Homo sapiens: one gene and its partners. The protein of the gene in region 2 interacts with the protein of the main gene of each other region in a pairwise test. Each region holds a gene or a part of one and is shown on either strand. Other genes may lie near its edges.

Region 1 (7,407 bases), on a different chromosome or scaffold from region 2:
TTCACTTAGTTTTACTCCTAGATGATCAGATACTAAATTAACTCACCTTTCAAATAGTTGTTTTTTTCAACTACAAAAGGAACACTTGTTATTTGAAAATGTATGGATTTATAAAACATAAAAAGTGACAAATTCCTTCTAATCCTACTCCTTAGAGACAACCAATATTAACTCTCTTTCCCTCCCCCCCGGCCAACATTTCTAGAAAGCAACTGTTAACTCTTGTTATTGTATATTCCTCCAGTTAAAAAAAAAAAAAAAAAAGCCTAGGCTGGGGGCGGTGGCTCACACCTGTAATCCCAACACTTTGGGAGGCCGAGGCGGGCAGATCACGAGGTCAAGAGATCGAGACCATCCTGGCCAACATGGTGAAACCCCCGTCTCTAGTAAAAATACAAAAATTAGCTGGGTGTGGTGGCGGGCGCCGGTAGTCCCTGCTACTCAGGAGGCTGAGGCAGAAGAATTGCTTGAACCTGGGAGATGGAGGTTGCAGTGAGCCGAGACCACGCCACTGCACTCCAGCCTGGGCAACAGAGCAAGACTCCATCTCAAAAAAAAAAAGCCTAACATTTTATTTTTAAAACGACTTATTATACATACTGCTTTATAACTTGCCTTTTCACTTAAAGTATCTCTTTTCAATGGTTCTGTTGGCTTCCACTGTATAAACATATCATGATGTAACCTTTTTTTTTTTTTTTTTGGAGATGGAGTCTCCTTCTGTCACCCGAGCTGGAGTGCAGTGGCAGAATCTTGGCTCACTGCAACCTCCAACTCCCTGGTTCAAGCTATTCTCCTGCCTCAGCCTCCCAAGTAGCTGGGATTACAGGCGTGTACCTCTACACCCAGCTAATTTTTGTATTTTTAGTAGAGGCGGGGTTTCACCATGTTGGCCAGGATAGTCTTGATCTTCTGACCTCATGATCCGCCCACCTCGGCCTCCCAAAGTGCTGGGATTACAGGCGTGAGTTTTTCTTTAAAATGAGTTGAGAATTGACCATTACAAAGTTTATGAACAGTTTACTTCTTAAAATAGGAAGTGTCATATTGCCCTCTTAAATAATTGTATTAATTTGCTTTTAGAATACTGAATATTATTTTTGTAATTATTATTTTAAATTTCATTTCTTTAATTGTATGTGACAATAGCCATCTTTTCATGTTAAAAGGCATTTATAGAGATACATATTGTGTTTACACCCTTAATTTATGGTATCATTTCAAATCCATTTATGTCATTTATTTTACGGATTAGATTCTAAAAACAGGATTCCATCAAATTGTTTTAAAAAATCTTTTTCGTTCTTTTTTTTCCATCAAATTGTTTTAAAAAATCTTTATCGTTCTTTTTTTCCATCAAATTGTTTTAAAAAATCTTTATCGTTCTTTTTTCTTTTTTTTCCGCCCCCACAAGATGGAGTCTTGCTCTGTCACCCAGGCTGGAGTGCAGTGGCATGATCTCAGCTCACTGCAACCTCTGCCTCCCAGGTTCAAATGATTCTCCTGTCTCAGCCTCCTGAGTAGCTGGGATTATAGGCATGCATCACCACGCCCGGCTAATTTTGTATTTTTTAGTAGAGACGGGTTTCACTATGTTAGGCTGCTCTCGAACTCCTGACCTCAGATGATCTGCCCACCTCAGCCTCCAAAAGTGCTGGGATGAGCCACCATGCCCGGCCTATTGTTCTATTTTTTTTTAAGGTTTTATTATTTTTAGTTACCAAATTGACGTGCTCATTAAATGAAGTGACACAATAAAAAAAAAGTGTAATCTCTCCCTTTTCTCCATTTCCATTCCCTCCCTCTGAGTAACCATTTTATTTTTATTTTACGTATTTATTTAGAGACAGAGTCTTACTACTCTGTCGCCCAGGCTGGTGTGCCTGTCACTCAGGCTGGAGTGCAGTGGTGCGATCTTGGCTCACTGTAACGTCCACCTCCACCTCCTGGGTTCAAGCAATTCTTGTGCTTCAGCCTCCTCCCAAGTAGATGAGATTACAGGCACCCGCCACCACGCCCGGCTAATTTTTGTATTTTTAGTACAGATGGGGTTTCCCCATGTTGGCCAGGCTGGTCTTGAACTCCTAACCTCCAGTGATCAGCCCACCTCTGGCTTCCCAAAGTGCTGGGATTACAGGCATGAGCCACTGCGCCTGGCCATCCCATGAGTAACCATTTTAATAATCTATTGTGTATCCCTCAACACAAACATACACAAGGTGTTTTGTTTGTTCCAAAAATATAATTATGCATAATATATGTAGCTCTGAAACTTTTTCATGTAATATTTTATGGCCATCCCTCCAGGTGTACATATAGTTCCAATCCATTCTTTTTCATAGCTGGGTAATTTCCAGAGTATGAATGCACCAATTTACTCCTTTCCTTACGTATGAACATGCATGTCATTTCTAGTTTTTGTCACTACAAAGAATTCTACAAGAAATTTGTAGACATCAGATTCACAGATGAGATTGTGAAGGTCAAAGGGTACATACTTGTACTTTTAATTTTAATATATATTACAAGATGACTTCACACACCACACTACCAGCGAAAGGAGTGCCTATTTCTCCACCTTCATTGTTTGATAGGTGAAAAATGTGGTTCCCTTTAAAAGTGATAATCTTGACTAGTAGTGTGGTTAAGCATCTTTTTAAATGTTAATGACCAATTAGTTTTCCTCCTCTCGGGAAGAGCTCCTCATTGCCTTTGCTTTTTGTCAGTTGGCAGGGGTTCATTTTGTCTTAGGAATGTATAATCTTTTGTGTAGCTAATCTTTACAATTATCTTCCAGTCTATTTCTTGTTTGTTAACAGAGTCAAGAAAAAGTTCTTAAAAAATACAATCACACAGGTTTATATTTTACTTCAAGACATCTCAGTTATCTGTTTTGCCTCATAATTCAAACCATAATGCTTTGATTAACGGAGGCTTTTTAGTAAATTTTGATCTGAAAAGGCAGATATTCCTTATTTTTCTAGAATGTCTTGGTGCCACACAGTTTTCATACTCGTTTCTTTGTAACATATTTTAAGCCATCGTCAGCCATTAGTCAGGTATAATTAACTTTAAGAAGAGGCATTCATTTATATTTTTACTTTTGTCAACTTTCTGGAGGCTGGTATTACATCGAGAAATAAGGCCATCCCTGCCCACAAGTTGTCCGAACCCTGATCAGTGCGTCACTGGGGAACGAACCGAGTGTGGATACAACGCACAAACACAAAACTCTGTTCGGCCTCCGTAGGAAGCTGAAATTGAGAAAGGAAACCGAGACAGTAGGAGAAGGGCAATTAAGATGTCTTTAAAAACAAGACGGCCGGTGCGGACAGCAGTGTAGAAGTTAGCAAGCTGGAGTGGGCAATGTCGGTGCCCCATCTCTAACCTATGGGAGTCACCAGAGCGGGGGCGGAGTCCCATGGCGGCCACACCCTGTCCGCCTCCGCAGTCTTTTTACTGGAGAACCGCAGTAAAAGGCGGAAACCGCGGAGGCGTCTTGATTTTCCGGTCGGAGAGATAGCTTGCTTCCTTTAAGCCTCGGGGTAGGGGGGTGGGGAGGGTAGGGGGGTGGGGAGGGTAGGGGGGTGGGGAGGGTAGGGGGGTGGGGGGGTGGGGAGGGTAGGGGGTGGGGGGGTGGGGAGAGTAGGGGGGTGGGGAGAGTAGGGGGGTGGGGAGAGTAGGGGGTGGGGGGGTGGGGAGAGTAGGGGGGTGGGGAGAGTAGGGGGTGGGGAGAGTAGGGGGGTGGGGAGAGTAGGGGGGTGGGGAGAGTAGGGGGGTGGGGGTTGGGGGGTGGCGCCGTGGGGGGTGGCGGGGTGGGGGGTGGGGGGTGGGGAGAGTAGGGGGGTGGGGGGTGGGGAGAGTAGGGCGGTGGGGGAGTGGCGGGGTAGGGGGGTGGCGGGGTGGGGGGTGGGGGGAGCGCGGGCGCTGGGTGGGCGGGGGGTGGGGCGGTGGGGGGGCCTGCCCCGCCCCAACCGCCGCGCCTGACGGTCGTCCATTGGTTGTTTGCATTCGAACTACATTTCCCAGCAGGCCCTGGGGTTAGACTGGCCGCAGCTGGAGAGGTGCCAGCCCGTCGTGGATGACTAGAGCCAACCACCTGCCTTCCGTCTTCCAGGCAGAACCACAGAGAGGCTACAGCCGTCCTGGCCTCCCTCCGGCCCTGAGAGCTCCTCTGGCCTGTCTCAAGTCTTAACGTCTCAAGCGCAGACTGCCGGCTCCGAACGGGGAGACCAGGCTTCTGCACCGGAAACAAGGCACCGGTTGTGACGTCACAGCCGCAGAGCGCCCGACTTCCCAGAAGGCACCGAGTCCCTGCCGTTCTCCTCAACTGGCGGCGGCGCGAACGAATAGTCGCCGGCGACCTGTGAGGGCACTCGGAAGGGCGAGGGGAGGGCTCGACCGCTCGCGCCTAGTTTTTCTATCTCTCCCGGAGCCTGAGTCTCTGAGCCGTCCCCAGCAAACGCTCAGGGGCTGCAGAGGCCCCGAGAGGTGAGGGGCTCCGTGAGGGCGGGAACCAGGCTGAGGCCGCCTCTGGGGAGCGGAGCGTGTCCGTTGCTGAGGGAGCAAGGCCGGGTAGGGAGCCTGGTGAGCGCCTCAGGCAGGGGCGCACGCTGAGCTTTACGGTAAAGGTGTTCCTTGACCAGCGGAAGAGGCCCCAGAGTGAGCCTGGCCCGGCGGTCCTTAGTGGGATGTCGCCTGCCGCTCTCAGCAGAGCTTTGACGGCGGAGAGGAGTCGGCAGGCGGTGTGTGGACACCTCCTCGGCCTTGCATCTGCTCCCCGGGAGAGTCACCAACCGCCTCCCCGCCCAAAGGGCACCGGAGGGAGCTTCGGTTCGAGGGGTACAGTATGGCCAGATTCAGTGACCAACCTGCTTTTAGGCAGATGTCCTCGGTATTGACCCCAGATTTCCTGTCTTCTAGCCCATTGCTCTTTCTCCAAGCCTGATTTAACCTATTCCTGGTGGGTTTTACACACCGTCTTTCTTTCTGTCTTTTCTTTCTTTTTCCTTTTATTTTCTTTCTCTTCCCTGATTCCCTTCCTCCTTCTTTCCTTTCTCTTTTCCTTTCTTTTTTTAGAGTCAGGGTCTTGCTTTGTCGCTCAGACTGCAGTGCAGTGGCGCGATCACAGTTCACTGCAGCCTCGACCTCCTGGGCACAAGCAATCCTCCCAGCTCCCCAGTAGCTGGGACCACAGGCTTGTGTCGCCACGCCCAGCTAATTTTTTTTTTTTTTATGGAGTCGGTGTCTTGCTGTGTTGCCCAGGCTGGTCTTGAACTCCTGGACTCAAGCGATCCACCCGCCAGGGCCTTCCAAAGTGCTGGGATTACAGGTGTGAGCCACCGGTACCTGGCCACACTTTGTATTTCTCAGGAGGCTGGACCTTGGCCTTCTCCGCTCCACCCTTACTCCCTTCCCTTTGGACTTGAGGTTTGCACAGTCTCTGTTTTTCATTCTCAGGATCTTCCTTTCACATCTTCCTAAGCATATCTTGTTCAAATACTGCGTTTCAGTTATGATTTCCCTATCCCAGCTGTCGTTTTCTTTAGATCTCATGTAGCCTCACCAGCCATGCCACATATTGGAGTGCAGTAATGCCGTGCCTGGTCTTTTGGGTAATCCCTGGTTTCTCTGTCTACAGCTTGGCTCTCTGGCAGATTTCCTCTAGTAAGAGGTGGCTCTGGAGGCCCCGCGAAACGAGTGTGGTGTGTGGTTGCAAGGCATGATGGCTGCAAAAGTGGTTCCTATGCCCCCAAAGCCAAAGCAGTCCTTTATACTGAGAGTTCCGCCAGACTCCAAGCTGGGCCAAGACCTACTTCGAGATGCCACTAACGGGCCCAAGACCATCCACCAGCTAGTGCTGGAGCACTTCCTCACCTTCTTGCCCAAGCCAAGCCTGGTCCAGCCCAGTCAGAAAGTCAAGGAGACCTTGGTTATTATGAAAGATGTGAGCTCAAGCCTTCAGAACAGAGGTGAGAAGCACATGCTTGTTTCACTAGAAGAGGAGGAGGAGGTACTGGAGTCTAAGATAGGTTTCTGTGTTAGTTATAAATTCAAGTTAGGATGGTGTATATTGGAAAAGGAGTCAATTCTAGTGTTGGAAAGAGGAAGTTCTTCTCAAGTGCTGGGTGTGAGTAAGGCCACAGAATAAACAGTGTGCATCTTTCTGTAGTGTCAGTTTTACCCAAACATTCTGAGGGAAATATCTTTTAAGGATAAATCAGATGAATTATTGAGTTAGGTTGATGTGGAATTTTAGAAATTTTGTGCTTTTTCTGGGCATCTTCACACTTTACGTTGCCCTAAGCTCTCCTTTAGTAATACTCTATGGGAAATTCTGAAAGGTGCTTAGAGAAGTCATTCTTTTCATAACAGGGAGATGCCATAGGTTCAAGACCCTAGAGTTTATGGCTTGAACTCTATAAGGGCTCACAGGAGCAGAAAAGGCCATGAGTTACCTGTCAAAGGAATGAGGACAGCCTGGCCTCGCGGTATGGGGAGTCTCTGTGTTAGAGTCACTGAGTTTTTCACTAACTAAACCTTCCTCTTTCCCCAGTGCATCCTCGTCCCTTGGTGAAGCTTCTGCCCAAAGGAGTCCAAAAGGAACAAGAGACAGTGTCTCTGTATTTGAAAGCTAACCCTGAGGTGGGTTTGGTTTTCCCATTTACTGCCTGAATCCATCACCTTCCGTGCTTGGCCAACCTGTGTGTAAAAACACATTCTTAGGAGTTGGCCTTCTTGGGTGTTTTTCTTCTGCTTTTTCCTTGAGCCCTTCTCAGCCTGGCTGTCCTGTCTTTGCTGCACCTCTGTGGGATTTATAGGTCCCTCTTGCTATCCCTTCCCTTGATCTTTGTGTGTCAGCTTTTCTTACCAGTAGGGCTGTCAGTGAACCTCAGTTACTAAGATGAAAGGGGCCTCTTGCTCTTTCAGGAGCTGGTGGTCTTTGAGGATTTGAATGTATTTCACTGCCAGGAAGAATGTGTGAGCTTGGATCCTACTCAACAACTCACGTCAGAGAAGGAAGATGACAGCAGTGTCGGGGAAATGATGTTACTGGGTAAGAAATCACAGCCTTTGTGTGTTCAGGTTGTTTGCTTTGGGAAAAGCATGTCCTTCATCTCTTTAGCTTTGGGGGACGATTCACACCTGGTAAGCCTATGTGCACACACACATTTTATTTTACTTTTGTTTTATTCAATGTAGCAGAGCCTTGCCACAGAACTCCAGCTGTGGGTGGGTGGCCATTTTTCCCTGTATCTTGGGGGCAGTGAGGGGAGAGGTAGGGAAAACCTGCAGACATAGAAACTGTGGATATAGAAACTGTTCTGAACCCATTTTCTGAACTCTGTTCTCAACAGGTATATTTGAATGTTTTCATTGAACACATGACTAACTCTTGTAATCCCC
Region 2 (7,532 bases):
GACATGACAATTCTAGACACCTATGATCCTAGACCTAGATGAGGTTAATGGAGATGGTCACTTTAATTAATATTATATGAACTTCCTGATGCACAGGGTTGTTCTGTGGTTAAAAAGATGAGGATCCTTGAACTCAGGTAATACACATTTAAGTATCAAGAGGTAATGGGACACTGTGTGTGCAACACATTTGCAAATGGTTCAGAAATGTTAATATTGGGGTATCTGGGTAAAGGGTACTATTTCTGCAACCTTTATGTAAATTTGAAATTAAAAACAATTAAATTTTTAAAAATACTGTCTATGCCCGAAATAGAAGAGAAATAAATTCTGGGAGGATAAAACAATGAAGTTAATGGTGAATCAAGACAGGTTCAATCAAGACAGGCTCCGCCCATGCCAGAATTTCACCATGGTTCCATTACTTAAATTTAAGGACTATGTACTCCATGTACTCACCGTAACATCAGTTATCCTAACATTCAAATTCAAATTAAAAATATATCCAAAACCAAAAGAGGTCCTACTTGACCACCCACACTAACGGACAATCTACAACCACTTTTCAAAAAATCTGTATTTTAACATCGGAATGTGTTTGTATTTACACTTGAAGTATGGGCATGTCTACACTGGTAACTTTTTGTGAAAAAAAATTAGTCATTGCCCTAATTCTGGAACATAATACTAATTTTCAAATATAGTACAAATGGCAGATCCTGCAGGAAAACATTTAGTATGCAGATAAAGACTAAGCTGTGAAATTTAAATACTATGTCATACCATGATTTCTTTTTGATGGCTAATATGCTAAATTTATTATTTCTAAAACTAAAATCAGCAATTAAAATAATACGTAAGACGTGGCTGGCACTTTACCTTTGTTCTTACAAAGAATGATTTGTCTTCTGTTTCGACAAGGTAGAACAGGAAGGTACTTTTACAAGCCTCTTTCACAACACTTCTTAGTTTGACGTGCAAATTGGTGCACACGTCTATGATTATGTCTTCATAGGAGGCTGACCGTCCTGGGAAAGGCAGATACATCTCTTGAGCAGTGGCTTCTCCAGAAACATCATTTAGCTCTTTGTCTTGGAAAATGAATTGGTTGCTATTCTTCATCACCTTGTTGAATTCAGCATACTCATTGAGAATAAGTGAAATATCATTCCGAGATTCCTTCACAGTACTGTTGTATTTCAGTTTGTTGAGGTGGAATGAAACAGTGTGATTTCTTTGAGAATTTCTAAGATCTCTATTATGACTACATCTCTCTCTCCAAGAGGAAGAGCTGTCCAGACTGCTGGCTGTGTAGCCTCTCCTGGGCTGCCCCTGTGGTCTGGGATCTGACTCCACAACTGTTACCAGAAGGGGGCTTCTGCTCCTAGGTGCAGGATGCAGAAATGGGGCCTCAGAGATTTTTGTCGAAGGGAAAGCACCAATGGAGATCTGGGTTGGTGACTCCTTTGGAAAGACATTGGCAGAGGAGGCAGAATGCTGAGAATCCCCATTCTTTATGGTCTGTTTTAGTTTATGTGCAAAACGCAGATACTCCAGGTCTAAAGTGTTCTGGGTGAGGTCGTCTGCCACCTGCCAAGTGCTTGTCCAGGAGCTGGGCAGGCCACAGTTTGCACTGAAACTCGGGTGCCTCCTCAGGCCGTGTGAAGTTCTCATGGTATCTTTGAGTTCTTTTGTTATAGAGAAGTTGGCGTAAGTCCTGAGGATCCCGTGGAGATCTCGGATTTGGACGTAAGGCGGCACACACTTCTCTTCTTTCTTTACCGCAGCAGTCCAGTGCCCGGGAGGGAGGCTCGTCTCCATGCCTGGAACCCAGCTAGAGCAGCCCCAGTCCTCTTGGTTGTTGTTGTGGAAGTTCAACGACGACTCATAGCCATCTGTGGGAACATCTTTTTTCCTGGTGTAACTACCTCTTAAAGTATAAGAATCCTCCAAATCCAGTCTGGGATTTCTACAATCACCAAGCAGGTCTAGATCAGAATCTCCAGAGAGTTCATAGTGCATGTCGGAATTCACACCGACCTCTCCATCTCTGCCTAGGGTTTCAGAACCAGCCTCAGCCCTGAGCCCCTCCCCACTGTTCTCAATTTCTACGTGCTCTGTGGCTATTCCACAAACAGAAGTATCAAAGGATTCTGAAACAAAGGAGGCCAAAGGCTCTTTACTGAGGTTTTCCTTGGTGTCTGCTGTATTTTGGTAGGGACCAGCACAAAGGGAGGAAACCCCGACATTCAATAGCTCCTTTGTTTCACATGTTGACACATCTTGCAGCGTGTGGATGGCTTTGCGTTCACCTTTTAGAGAAGATGTGGTGTTGGACTGAGGGCCAGCAGTGCCTGGACCTGTGGTTTCTTTATGTAACTCAGCTTCAGGCTCACCATTCTTAAGCAAACTGGCCATTCTGCCTGCTGGTATTTCCTGTGCTTGAAACACTGGCTCTGCATTTATTGGTCTTACATAATGGGTTAATGTAGCATTGTCTGAGGAAGAACAAAGCGTGGGGACCACTGAGCACATGCATCCCTGTGTAGAATAAGCTCCATCAACCGAGGCAGCTGTCAAGGACTTCACCTGCAGATAAATGCCTTCATCTGTTTTCAAATCACCGGGAAAGAGATGGTTCTGACTGCTTTTAGGGCTAGTCTGCTGTTTTACTGACACATTCACTATACCACTTGGTGCAGTTGTGGAAACCAATGTGTCAGACAAAGACTTATTTTCAATAACATTTCTAGGACCAAATGGAGGTTCACTGGACTCCAAGACAAGATGTTTTAAGTCCAAATTTCTATTCTCTATACTAACTGGCTGCAATGGATTTCCTGATTTTACCAGTTTTTCAGGAGAAGGACTGAAGTCACCTGTGCATTTGGCAGCTGAGGCAGGCTGGTTTAACTCCCTACCATAGCACTGCACCTTTCCTGAGAAAGATAAACCCTCATCATGCTCACTTGAGACAATTTCCTCAGTTACTTTACCAGGAAGGGTTGGTCTACCTGTTCTTCCTGGATGATCAGTTAATATTAGAGGCATTTCGGCAGAGACCTGCATTTGTTGTACCTGGGTAAAGTTATCTTGCCCCACTGGATGGGTAGGACCAACAAAAACATTTTCTTTTTCTGTTATGCCTAAGTCTTCTGACTCACATTGGGAGATTTGGTTGCTCTTCTCACACTGTGTACCATGAAGTTTTAAAATGCATGGAGTCACAGCCTGATATGGTCGTGTCTCTTTAACTGGTACTGGAGGTTCAGGACTAGACGCTGGTGATACTTCTTCAATTACAGAATCAAAGGGAAAATCAGAGGTCACATTAATTTCCTCTGCAATCTCAAGGGTGCAATTTTCTTTAGAAAGTATTAAAGTAACTGGTTGTAAATTATCCCCCTTTCTCTCCTTATTTTCTACTGGTTCTTCTGACACTGAGGGATATACTGACACATTGTCAGCAGAACTCACTTCTCTGCTTTCTGTGAGAGCCACCTCTTCCGGTTCACCTATTTCCTCAGCTACATCCTGAAGTTCTAAATTTGAGAATGGGGCCTCCTCAAATTGCTCTATTTCACCAGCTGGCATTTCTTCTCTGGGACTTGTAGGTGGTGATATTGTTAGAGCTAAGTCAATGTCAGAATCTTCCTCTGATAACTCTAGGCTGACCTCTCTACTCACAGACAGGCTTGTTTGTTTGATAAATACTGAATCAAACGCTTCCAAATTCATATTTTCAGTGTTTGGACCATTCTTGTGATTCTTCCTTAGTTCTAAAGAGTCACCTGATGTGTGGCATCCTGACGAAATGCAGTTAAGTGAACACTGCCTTCCCAAGGTGGTAGAGGCTGATGATGAGTCCACTTCAACCTGTGTCAGTTCTAGAAGCCCTTCTGAAGATAGGCCGAGGAGACTCTGAGTCTGTGAAAGGAAATCCTGAGTGCATCTCACTTCTTCACTGGGTGATAGATGACTAGAACTTTTAGCTAATGATAGTGCCTCCATGACCATTGTTTTATCAGATGGTAGAGAGACTGGAAGGGGCGTCTCCTTCTGTAATGAACACACTGCTTTATCAAGTGTCTCTCCACCTACTGACGAGGCACAAAGGTACTTAGTGCCCTTCTGTCCTGCAACTACTAGAGAGGGAATGTCCCTCAGGCCTTGTGTTCGTGCATTTTCCGAGGTGGATACAGGATGTCTAAGGCTTGCAGCAGGTGATACTTGCTTAATCAACTCCTTCTTAAAGGTTGTACGTTCATCAGCAGTATTTACACCTTCTGTCTGTATTGGTACATGTGCATTTTTTTCAAAGGTGAGAGTAATTGGTTCCGGGTTAATCACTGCACACCCCATATTATCATCCTTTCTTTCCAAGGAAGGGTGACATTCATTGTTTATGGGGCTGCCATGTTGGATAAGGTCCTGTAAAGTACCTGTTTTTGTTTGCACTGCTGCATCAAGAATATCCACTTTGTTTTCAAGGGTGCCGTACACAGAGCTCTGACATATCACTGGCTGACTGCCAGGCCCATCGTAAGTCCTGGTGAATGTGGCTTGAGTAACAGTGCCACTGTAAGAAGCCACTCTTGTGCTATCCAGTGGCTGAACAATTTCTTCTTCACTAGGAACAGAAGGTCCATTAGTTTGTGTACTTCCAATACCCGAAAGCACAAGATTAGAAGTCTCCAATGATTCTTGTTTAGCTTCTTCCCCAGTTACCTGAAACGGCCAAAGTAAAAAAAAAAAAAAATCAGTCATATAAAATGTTTTTTATACGATTATATGTACATGTGAAGAACAGAAAAGATAAAAATTAATTTTAGTTTGTGAATGTTCTTCTGAATTTTCTAGCTAAAAGAATATCACAGGGTACAAATCAAGCAAGTCCCTCTTTTAAAGGCAGACTTAAAATACCCCCCAGTGGGATTTGTTTTCTTTAAAACCACACACAGAAGAGAGCTCCAAGCTTTTTGGAAGAAAAATAACTAGACCACTGACAATTTAAAAGACTTTAAATGCAGCCTGTTTGCTACTTAGCACCGCTTAATCCAGAAGTGTAGCACTAGAGAAAAAGCATTCAATTTTGTTTTTAATAAATGAGATTAATTTTTTTTTTTTCAAGACAGCGTCTTGCTTTATCGAACAGGCTGCAGTGCAGTGGAGTGATCTTGGCTCACTGCAACCTCTGCCTCCCGGGTTTAAGTGACTCTCTGCCTCAGCCTCCCGAGTAGCTGGGATTACAGGTACATGCCACCATGCCCGGCTAATTTTTGTATTTTTAGTAGAGATGAGGTTTAGCCACGTTGGCCAGGCTGGTCTCAAACTCCTGACCTCAAGTGATCCACCCACCTCGGCCTCCCAAAGTGCTGGGATTACAGGTGTGAGCCACTGTGCCCAGCCTAAAAGATAATTTTTAAAAAGCAAATAACATTTTTAACATCCGTTTTCAATTAGACCATAAGTACACCATCATCTGAAACTTTCCCATGAGGCAACAGAGTAAATTAATTACTACCCCCTGTACTCAGAATACATTGATTCTAGTCAACAAAGGCCCCTCATCCCTTAGCTATCTTCTTTGCATGAAACTGGAGATTCTTTCTCATTTGAATACCTATTGTACATGGCAATTGAAAACTTTATCAATGCAGTTTGCAATCATAAACTGAACTAAAGGCACTGATTTAAACAGTAGCAAGCAGGATTTAGGTTAAACATTAGCAGAGCTATCATCTCAGGACAGTTCTCATAACCTCATAAACAGGGTGGTATTTGTTTTTTGTTTTATTTAAAGCCTCAAGCATGGCCTTGTCGAGCATATAATAAAATGAACTGATTATACAACTGATCACACCCCTCTGCAATGCTGGGAACACCATGCTCACAAACTGCGTGCCATGTCTTGAAGCATACATGTTGGAAATCAGGAACTGTGTTCCAAATCTCTTGTTAAAAACATTTCTGTCTTAGGTAGGGCACGGCTTCTCACGCCTGTAATCTCAGAACTTTGGGAGGCTGTGGTGGGCGGATCACTATAGGCCAGAAGTTCGAGACCAGCCTGGCCAACATGGCGAAACCTAGTCTCTACTAAAAATACAAAAATTACCCAGGAGTGGTGGCATGCACCTGTAATCCCAGCTACTCGGGAGGCTGAGGCAGAGTCACTTGAACCCGGGAGGCGGAGGCTGCAGTCTCAAAAAAACCAAACCAAACAAACTCATTTCTGGCTGGAGCAGTGGCTCACGAGACTCTGTCTCAAACAAAACAAAACAAACAAACCAACCAACCATTTCTGGCTGGGGGCAGTGGCTCACGCCTGTAATCCCCAGCACTTTGGGAGGCTGAGGCAGGTGGATTGCCTAAGGTTAGGAGTTATAGACCAGCTTGGCCAACATGGTGAAACCCTGTCTCTACTAAAAATACAAAAATCAGCCAGGTGTGGTGGCAGGCGCCTATAATCCCAGCTACTAGGGAGGCTGAGGCAGGAGAATCAGTTGAACCAGGGAGGTGAAGCTTGCAGTGAGCCGAGATCGTGCCATTGTACTCCAGCCTGGGAGACAAGAGTGAGACTTCTCAAAACAAAACAAAACAAAACAAAACAAAAAAACAGAGTCAACAGTGTGGGGCTGAGACAACAGAGTTTTAAGAGAACAAAGTATTAGAAAAGTCTTGAGAGTCAGTGTCCTTCTGAGAACTTTAATGGCCCTCCCAATCATGTGGCTGGTAACGTTTAGCCTCAGTCCTAAATCTCACCATGACTGTAGTCTTAGTGAAATGCAAATAGTGACAATCTTGATATATTTCTATTTCGATATATTTTTACTACAGGTAAAGTGTAATGCTTCTAAAATAAAGTCTGACAATTCAGAAAGAGTGCTCAACTCAACACATGACTAGCAGCAACATGCTTTTGGTTTCTAGTGCCTATCATGCTAGAATCCTCTTCTTCACATTCCAGTGTGCCAACTGGTGGAGGGAGTGCGATAGCACACGTGTGCCTTTCAAGTACAGGCACAGCATTCAACAAGATGACAAAAAAACAAAAGCCTACGTAAGTACATACTAAGGAGATTGTTAGGAATCACTGATTTGAACAGTCAGGCTTGCCAAAATCATTGCTAAAATTAGTACTGATGATAGTTAATTACATATTACCACGACAAATGGTATTTTATAAGAAACTAGCATGTATATATGTATTAATTTAAATCTCCCTGACTAGACTATATTTTCTTATTCTAAGGTGGTGATTCTTAACTGGATTTTATGTAATTCTTTGAGAATAGGATGGAACTGCTGAACCCCATCTTTAGGGGAAAAAAAAAGCACATACATAGTTAACATTTAGGTTTTCTAGACTGGAATCTTGGCTTGACAATTTTCTATGTGACTTTAGGCAATTTCTTTACTTCTCTATGCTTTAGTCTCGTCATCTATGTAATGGGGAGATTAATAGTCTTTAACTTATTTGAGAATGAACTGAGTTAATATGAGTGAAGGGCTTAGAACTCTTACTTTCTGGC
Region 3 (7,532 bases), on a different chromosome or scaffold from region 2:
GATAGGGAATGTACAGGACATGAAGATAGGGACTATACAGGACATGAAGACAGGGAATGTTCACTCTCACTTCCCCTACAAACATTTTATACTTCACTTACCATGAGAATTAGATCTGTAGCCATTTGTGTACATTAAATGCTCTTTTCCAAAAGGATAATAAAACCTCTAATCTCCTCAAGAGGACCAAATAATTTCACCTTGGTTCCCAAGGTGCTGGGAAGACGTATCTCCCTAGGCATGTGTATTTCAAAAAGCATGAAAAACAGACCTTGGAGACATCCCCAGGTTACAAGTGTCTCACATTCTGAAAGGTTAGGATAAGACCCCTGGAACCTTTTCATCCCATGTCAGGGGAGCTAAGGTGTTTGTCTGTTTGGTTTTCCTTTTTCTTCTTCTTTTTTTTTTCTCTCTCTCTCCTTTTGGGACGGGAGAGGGACAGCTGCTCTGTCCCTGTCAACAAAGTGTAGCCCACATGTACATTCCATTAGTTTTCAGTGTCACCTAAGGGTCAAGGTTTAGGGGCCTGACACAATAGTGTCACTCAGGCTGTTGCCCCAGTTGTAAATATCAACAAGGAACTCTTTTCTCCTACCCAGGGGTTTTGTGTTTCTGCAGTATTCATATGTATAAAGAATGTTAACTGTGAAGTGAAATCATATCTCAAGCCCTTCACAGTTACTGACAAAACATTATGTCCCAACCTCACCAAAAAGCCACCAATCTAAGTGTCTCCAAGTAGCCACAGCTGTCTGAGGACAAAGGCTTCCAAGAGCCTGGCCAGGAAAGCCCTGGCTCTAGAGCCTGCTCCACACATGGAGGCAGAAAGGCTCGAGAATGGCCCCGTCCATGCACAGCCTCCTCCTCGGCAGCACCCAGTGTGTTTTTCCTAACCTTACGTGGACCAGAGGTGAGGGCAGAGATGACATATTAGCACTCTCTTGAGAATATTTTTCTGGTTAAAAGGGTAATTGGTAATTGTGCTTGCTGTTTTAAATTTGGAAAATACAAAAATGTTTCAAGAAGGAAAAAAAAAGCCAAACACCCACAATTTCACCATCAAAAAGATATGTTTTCTTCCAGGTTTTTAAAAATACCCCAATATACACATATGTTTTAAAAATAAAACTAGAAGCACAATTTCATATCCTTTTTTCCCCACCCAATCAGCATAGATCATAAATATTTTCCCATCACTAAACGCTGCTCGAAAACACGAGCTTTATAAGCTACCTATAGTCTGTCTGGATGTGCCGTAATTCGTTCAAATGTGTCTCTATTGTTGGATATTTAGCTTGTTTCCAAGTTTTTACATAACAAAAGCTAATTCAATAAACATCCGTGTACATACATCTTTGTTCCCATCTCTGGTTACTTCACGTAAGTAGGTTCCAAGAAGCAGAATTTCTGGAACAGAGAGCTTAACATTTTTAAGACTTTAAGTATATAGCACCAAGGTAAATTCCAGAAAGTTTATTTCAATGTAGAATCCTGACTACAGTCACTGTGGAGTACTCAGTGCCCCACTCAGTGACCCACACTACCCACTTATGGAATTCATAGTTCAGTTTTAACTTGTCCCATCTGGTTGTTTTTTGTTTTTTGTTTTTTTTTTGAGATGAAGTCTCACGCTTGTCACCCAAGCTGGTGCGATCTCGGCTCACTGCAACCTCCGCCGCCTGGGTTCAAGCGATTCTCCTGCCTCAGCCTCCCGAGTAGCTGGGACTACAGGTGCCCGCCACCATGCCCAGCTAATTTTTGTATTTTTAGTAGAGACGGGGTTTCACCATGTTGGCCAGGCTGATCTTGAACTCCTGACCTCAGGAAATCCGCCCGCCTCGGCCTCCCAAAGTGCTGGGATTACAGGCGTGAGCCACCGCGCACGGCCAATCCCATCTGTTCTTTAGGAAAACACATTATCAGCCCATTCTATTTCCCTGATTCCATATTTACCTCCCACAATCTCAATAGCACAATTACATTGATTTATCATTACAAATTACAAATATGAATGCATTAAATTATTACATGTGCCCTGAAAATACATACATCTATTATGTATTATTTCAAGAGTTTAAAAATAAAATAAAACAGTACCAAGGAAGATCAGTACGGGGGGAGAAGGCCTAAGAGAGCTATTACCGTATTTCCGTGGTTGCCTCCAAAGGCAATTTTAGATTGAGTTTGGGGCCTCACATAGTGAGTATCAGTTTCCCCATCCCCAAACAATGCATCAACATCAGCACACTTATACATTCTGAGAAATGCACCATTAAGCAATTTTGTCATTGTGTGAACATCACAGAGTGTACTTACACAAACCTACATGGTATAACCTCCTACACACCCAGGTTTATGGTATGGCCTATGGCTTCCAGGCTGCAAACATGTACTGCAGGTTACTGTACTGAGGACCGTAGGCCACTGTAGCACAATGGCAAGTATCTGTGTATCTAAACATAGCAAAAGGTAAAAGTATGATATTATCATCTTATGGGGCCACAGTCATGTGTATGGCCCATTGATGACCTAAACGTTGTGATGCAGCAACATCACTGTACCCTAAGGTGACTTCAGCCATGTCCAAGTGACAACTACTCACAACTTCATGTTTCCTGGTGGTATAATGTCAGCAGCTGCCTAGCAGTTTTCCCATCAGCCTTTCTCATCCCCAGGATAAAAGGATCTGATCCCACAGTCAGCAGTGGAGGGTCCTCCAGTCTTTCAACTGGTCCTTGAGTTATCACTAATTGCCTAACCAACTTCACCTCACCCCTCCGATCTCTAAAACTCTTTCAGTGACATTTATGCAAAGACAGAAAATCTCCCTGCCTGATTGTCTCTTCACTCTCTCCCATTCAAGAATCCAGGAGTCACTAGTCACCTATTTTCCTTCTCATCACCCCATCCCCCAACTCTCACTTTCCACCAGCCTCCCATTGCTATCCTTTCACCCGACACACCCATCATATCTAGGTGTTAAGACACTCTTATCACCACTGTAATTTTTCTCATCTTTTCCAATAGATCTAGGGTAAAAAGGACAAAAGAATTCTTTCAAAAATAACATGGTAGATATTACTTGAAATAAAGCAATTTGTATGCAGTCCCTCCTCATCTGAAAGGTCAATCTCATGAAATGGGAAAATTGGTAGGATTCTAAGCTTAGGGGGCCAGGACAGCGTATTCTGTCTACAGAGTACTTCTTTGGATCTTCCCAAAATCTGACATTCATAAGAACAATTAAAATGTACACTCAATAAGAACAAATTAAAGTGTATACTCATCTCTCCTTTGATGGCATTAGGTGTGCGAGTATCAAATGCCTTCAGCAGATAGCAACAGTGTTAAGTATGCCCAAATGAAATTATTTATGAAAATCACACAGCAAGTAGTTAATTCTCAAAAATCGTCATTTAATGAAAACAGGACAGGCTTTTATCACACAAAATCCTAAATTAAGGTATTTTGCTGAACTAAATTAGTCTTGCCTTTGGGATAAAAATACTTAGAATCCATCATCAGAAGGAACCTCACACACCTGCTTCTCATCTGCAGCCATTCTTTGTCAACTCCGCTCTTTCTTGCTTATCAGAAGGGAATACTAAACTGATAAAGGAGTTATAAACCAAAATAGAAACAAAACAAAACCAAACGCCTAATTCTCCATGGCCTTCCTGGACAAAGAGACAAATACATAAAATAAAATAAAGTCCTTCTTGCCTCTTCAAAATGGAAAACTGGGCTGGGCGCGGTGGCTCACACCTGTAATCCGAATACTTTGGGAGGCTGAGGCGGGCAGATCACCTGAGGTCAGGAGTTCGAGACCAGCCGGCCAACATGGCGAAACCTCATCTCTACTAAAAATACAAAAATTAGCCCGGCGTGGTGGCATATGCCTGTAATCCCAGCTACTCGGGAGGCTGAGGCAGAAGAATCACTTTAACCCAGGAGGCGGAGGTTGCAGTGAGCCGAGATCACACCACTGCCCTCCAGCCCAGGAGACAAGATCGAGACTCTTTCTCAAAAAAGAAAAAAAAAGGAAAATTCAATGTATCACAAACTTAACATGAGTCCCATTTCTGTATGGCAAGCAAGGGCAAGTGGGCAGAGCCAACAGAGTGACCACAGGCCCCTGTCCGAAGTGCTTTTTAAAATGTGGAAAGAGGTTTCATCTGAGCCAAGGAAAAGATCAACTATTTGGCCCTGGGAAGAGATCCTCGATTCAGTGGCTTTCCATTTCTACTCTGGCCACACACCTGAGGGAGGCTGGGGAGCAGGGATCCAATGGTGAATAAGAGGCTCGCTATCAAGGCAGGAAGGGGAAGGAAGGGAAAGGGGGCTACAGATAGTCTCAAATCTAAAAGGTCCCGTGTAATTTCTAAAAGTCCCCTCCCCAGGTGATTTTCACAACACACACAGGTTCTGTCTCCTGAGGATGACAGAATTATCCAGCCACATTTTACAGTGAAAACTTCCAAAGGAGGAAGTGATTGGAGAACTAAAAGGCCACTCTAGGCATCTGAGTTCATGCACCTTCCACCGCAGAGCCTTGTACACAGCTGGCTGTCAAGAAATATTTAATAAACAAATGAAATAATAACACAATGTGTGCATTTAAGAAAACCATTGCATGTGTTACTACATTTAACAAAATCAATTATTCATTTAAAATAATTGCATGGGGTCCCTGGATCCCCAAGCAGACCAAGTTATTGATGGAGGGTCCCGGCTAGTTTCAGTGCCTCAGAAAGCCTAACGGGATGGTGAGTTTCTCTCACACGGAGCCGGCCAGCCTGTCCAACACACCACGGGTCTCTACCTTTGGCTATAATGAGTTCAGTGAGATTTGATGATACCAGTTTTCTCAAGGCAATCAGGAGTTCTGACTGGAAGTCATATGTGTTTCTGAGGAATAAAAATGGGCACTAGGGCCGGGTGCAGTGGCTCACGCCTATAATCCCAGCACTTTGGGATGCTGAGGAGGGAGGATCATTTGAGGCCAAGGGTTTGAGACCAGTCTGGGCAACATAGCGAGACCCCGTCTCTACACAAAAATGTATGTCGGGCTTTGGGGTGGCACATGCCTGTTGTCCCAGCTACTCAGGAGACTGAGGCAGGAGGATCACTTGTGCCCAGGAGTTTGAGCCTGTAGTGAGCTATGATCGAGCCACCGCACTCCAGCCTGGTGGACAGAGTGAGACTTTGACTCTAATAAAAGAAAAAGGATACATGAAGTCTACTTAAATAAACACAATTTGTTTCAGAGACAGTTTGTCATAAGATGGAGCTTCTGAGGGGGAAAATTATTTTTAGGGGATCTTTGAAGGTCAATGCCAAGACTTCAGGCCTGCTGCTTGCTCTGAATCCAACGAGCCTCAGACGGAGTCCCAGGGACAAAGGGGACCTGTGAGCTGTGTTTCCTGCTTGTGTGTTTTCCTTGGTACTCTATAAAAAATACTGTCTTCATGTTCAAATCTGGACCCTATATGTTATTCATCATTCTTTGTTCTTTGTTGATAAATTAAAGTTTGATGGAACTTCCTCACCCACTTTTCCATCAGTCACTCCCGCCACCAGAGCCACTCCTCAATTCAGCACACTGTGCATGAAGCTGGCATCGTGCACCGACCACTGATTACACTCAGGCCAAACACAGGGGGCCGACGGGGCAGGCAGAGACCGAAGGTCCTGACCTCCTACCCCTGTGCAGGAAGGAACATCATGTCTCATACAGATGAAAAGAAGAACTAATTTTTACTAATAATAACTGACATTTCACCGCAGTTTCGTTTATTTGCATATATTACGTATTGTAATATATGTTATAAATATATGCTATCAGTTAATATTTACTTTCATGTATGTTGTCACATATACAGTGTTGGGCACACAGTAAGCATTCAATAAATGCACATGAGCCAAGATGGTAAAGCAGGCCGGCGCAGTGGCTCATGCCTGTAATCCCAGAACTTCAGAAGGCTGAGGTGGGCAGATCACCTGAGGTCAGGAGTTCGAGACAAGCCTGGCCAGCATGCTGAAACCCCGTCTCTACTAAAAATACAAAAATTAGCCAGGCATGGTAGCGCACGCCTGCGCACACCTGTAGTCCCAACTACTCGGGAAGCTGAAGCACAGGAATTGCTTGAACCTGGAAGCAGAGGTTGCGGTGAGCTGAAAGTGTGCCACTGTACACCAGTCTGGGCAACAGAGCAAGACTCTGCCTCAAAAAAAAAAAAAAAGAAAAGAAAAAAAAGGTGGTAAAAGCAAAATACTACAATCAGCCCAGTGCACACCTGCAATGACAGATAATGAAGAAGTTGACACGAGAGTGAAGAAGATTCAGACTAAAGCACAGAGAGGCTTGGGAAGATTTTCTTATCTGACATAAAGAGGGAAAATACATTGGTCCAATCACTGTTATTTCCATATCATTTGGTCTCCATGGATACCACCTAACTTTCCTTCTGACAGGAAAAAATTCACTGACAATATCGGATTCCACTGTGAAATTTTTTTGATACTTTATATAAAAGTTATTCCATGTTTAATCTTTTATCATTATTTATATATGCTCAGAAGTAAAATCCCTCCTTGCTGGAAATTCTATGAGAAAGATAGTGTCTAATCCAGTCATGATTATCTGGCCTTTTTACACTAAGAATAATCTGATATAATTTTGAAAGTTAATGCCTTACACATTTGTAGACTGCCATAATTTATGCAATGTTCTTTCATATACAGTATCTCAATTGTTCATGAAAGCAACACTTACGAGATATAGTTAAAAATTATTATTATCCTCCTTACAGCTAACCCCAAAAGGTAATAACTATATTTTTTGTTGTTAATGGTCAGCTCACTCACCAGAACACAACCTAGTGTAAAGATGCTGTCTTTCTCGCTGTCAGTTGAGTATACAGAGGCTAGCACTGTGTCTGGCTTATAATAGATGTTCTAAGGATATTTATTGAGTGTGTACATAAATTCTCTTGTCTGCGTTAAGCCCTTTTTGGTATAAGGCAGATAAGGGAACTATAACCCAGATACTCCATTTAGATAGAGTACAGTGGTTTTTCACTATCAAAAGGATATTATGTGAAAATGCTCTAAAAACAACAGTTTTGTACGAGATGATGTTAAGAATAAAAATATAACATCGTTGGTAACATGAGAAAATTGATGCACATCAAATGTGGAGCATCCAAAGTGTCTATTTTTCCAGTAAGTTTAAACATCTTTTGCTCTGGTGCACTATTTGCCTAATAAAGTGTTTCAGAAAGTGGGATAAAAGTGGGACCATTGTTCATAAGGCTGTCAGAACTTCATGGCACGCATGTGTTTGCCATAATTTGCTTCCAGTTTGACTACAGATCCTTACTTTTGATTATGCTGACATTTTTACAGGTAAGTAAATCTGAAATAACTGGAACTTTCTCTAACAAAAAAATGACAACTCACTGAGAATGAAATATGTAAATGTTTAATTTTAACAAGCAGTTACAAATCGTAACAGACAAGAACTCTTGGAT

The links. The genes of interacting proteins can lie anywhere in the genome.
Region 1: the proteins of TASOR2 (region 2) and ZNF200 interact in binary tests that used the Homo sapiens proteins (3 or more experiments, as listed by UniProt).
Region 3: the proteins of TASOR2 (region 2) and IRF2 interact in binary tests that used the Homo sapiens proteins (3 or more experiments, as listed by UniProt).

Annotation. Positions count from the first base shown.
Region 1 is NC_000016.10:3,232,071-3,239,477, reverse strand, and holds the start of ZNF200 (zinc finger protein 200), read left to right. Parts: upstream 1-4,319; 5' UTR 4,320-4,491; exon of another isoform or gene 4,492-4,963; intron 4,964-5,641; 5' UTR 5,642-5,722; coding exon 5,723-5,972; intron 5,973-6,556; coding exon 6,557-6,645; intron 6,646-6,930; coding exon 6,931-7,057; intron 7,058-7,407. UniProt on the Homo sapiens protein: Localizes protein arginine N-methyltransferase PRMT3 to the nucleus.
Region 2 is NC_000010.11:5,743,375-5,750,906, reverse strand, and holds part of TASOR2 (protein TASOR 2), read right to left. Parts: intron 4,729-7,532; coding exon 880-4,728; intron 1-879.
Region 3 is NC_000004.12:184,464,463-184,471,994, forward strand, and holds part of IRF2 (interferon regulatory factor 2), read right to left. Parts: intron 1-7,532. UniProt on the Homo sapiens protein: Specifically binds to the upstream regulatory region of type I IFN and IFN-inducible MHC class I genes (the interferon consensus sequence (ICS)) and represses those genes. Also acts as an activator for several genes including H4 and IL7.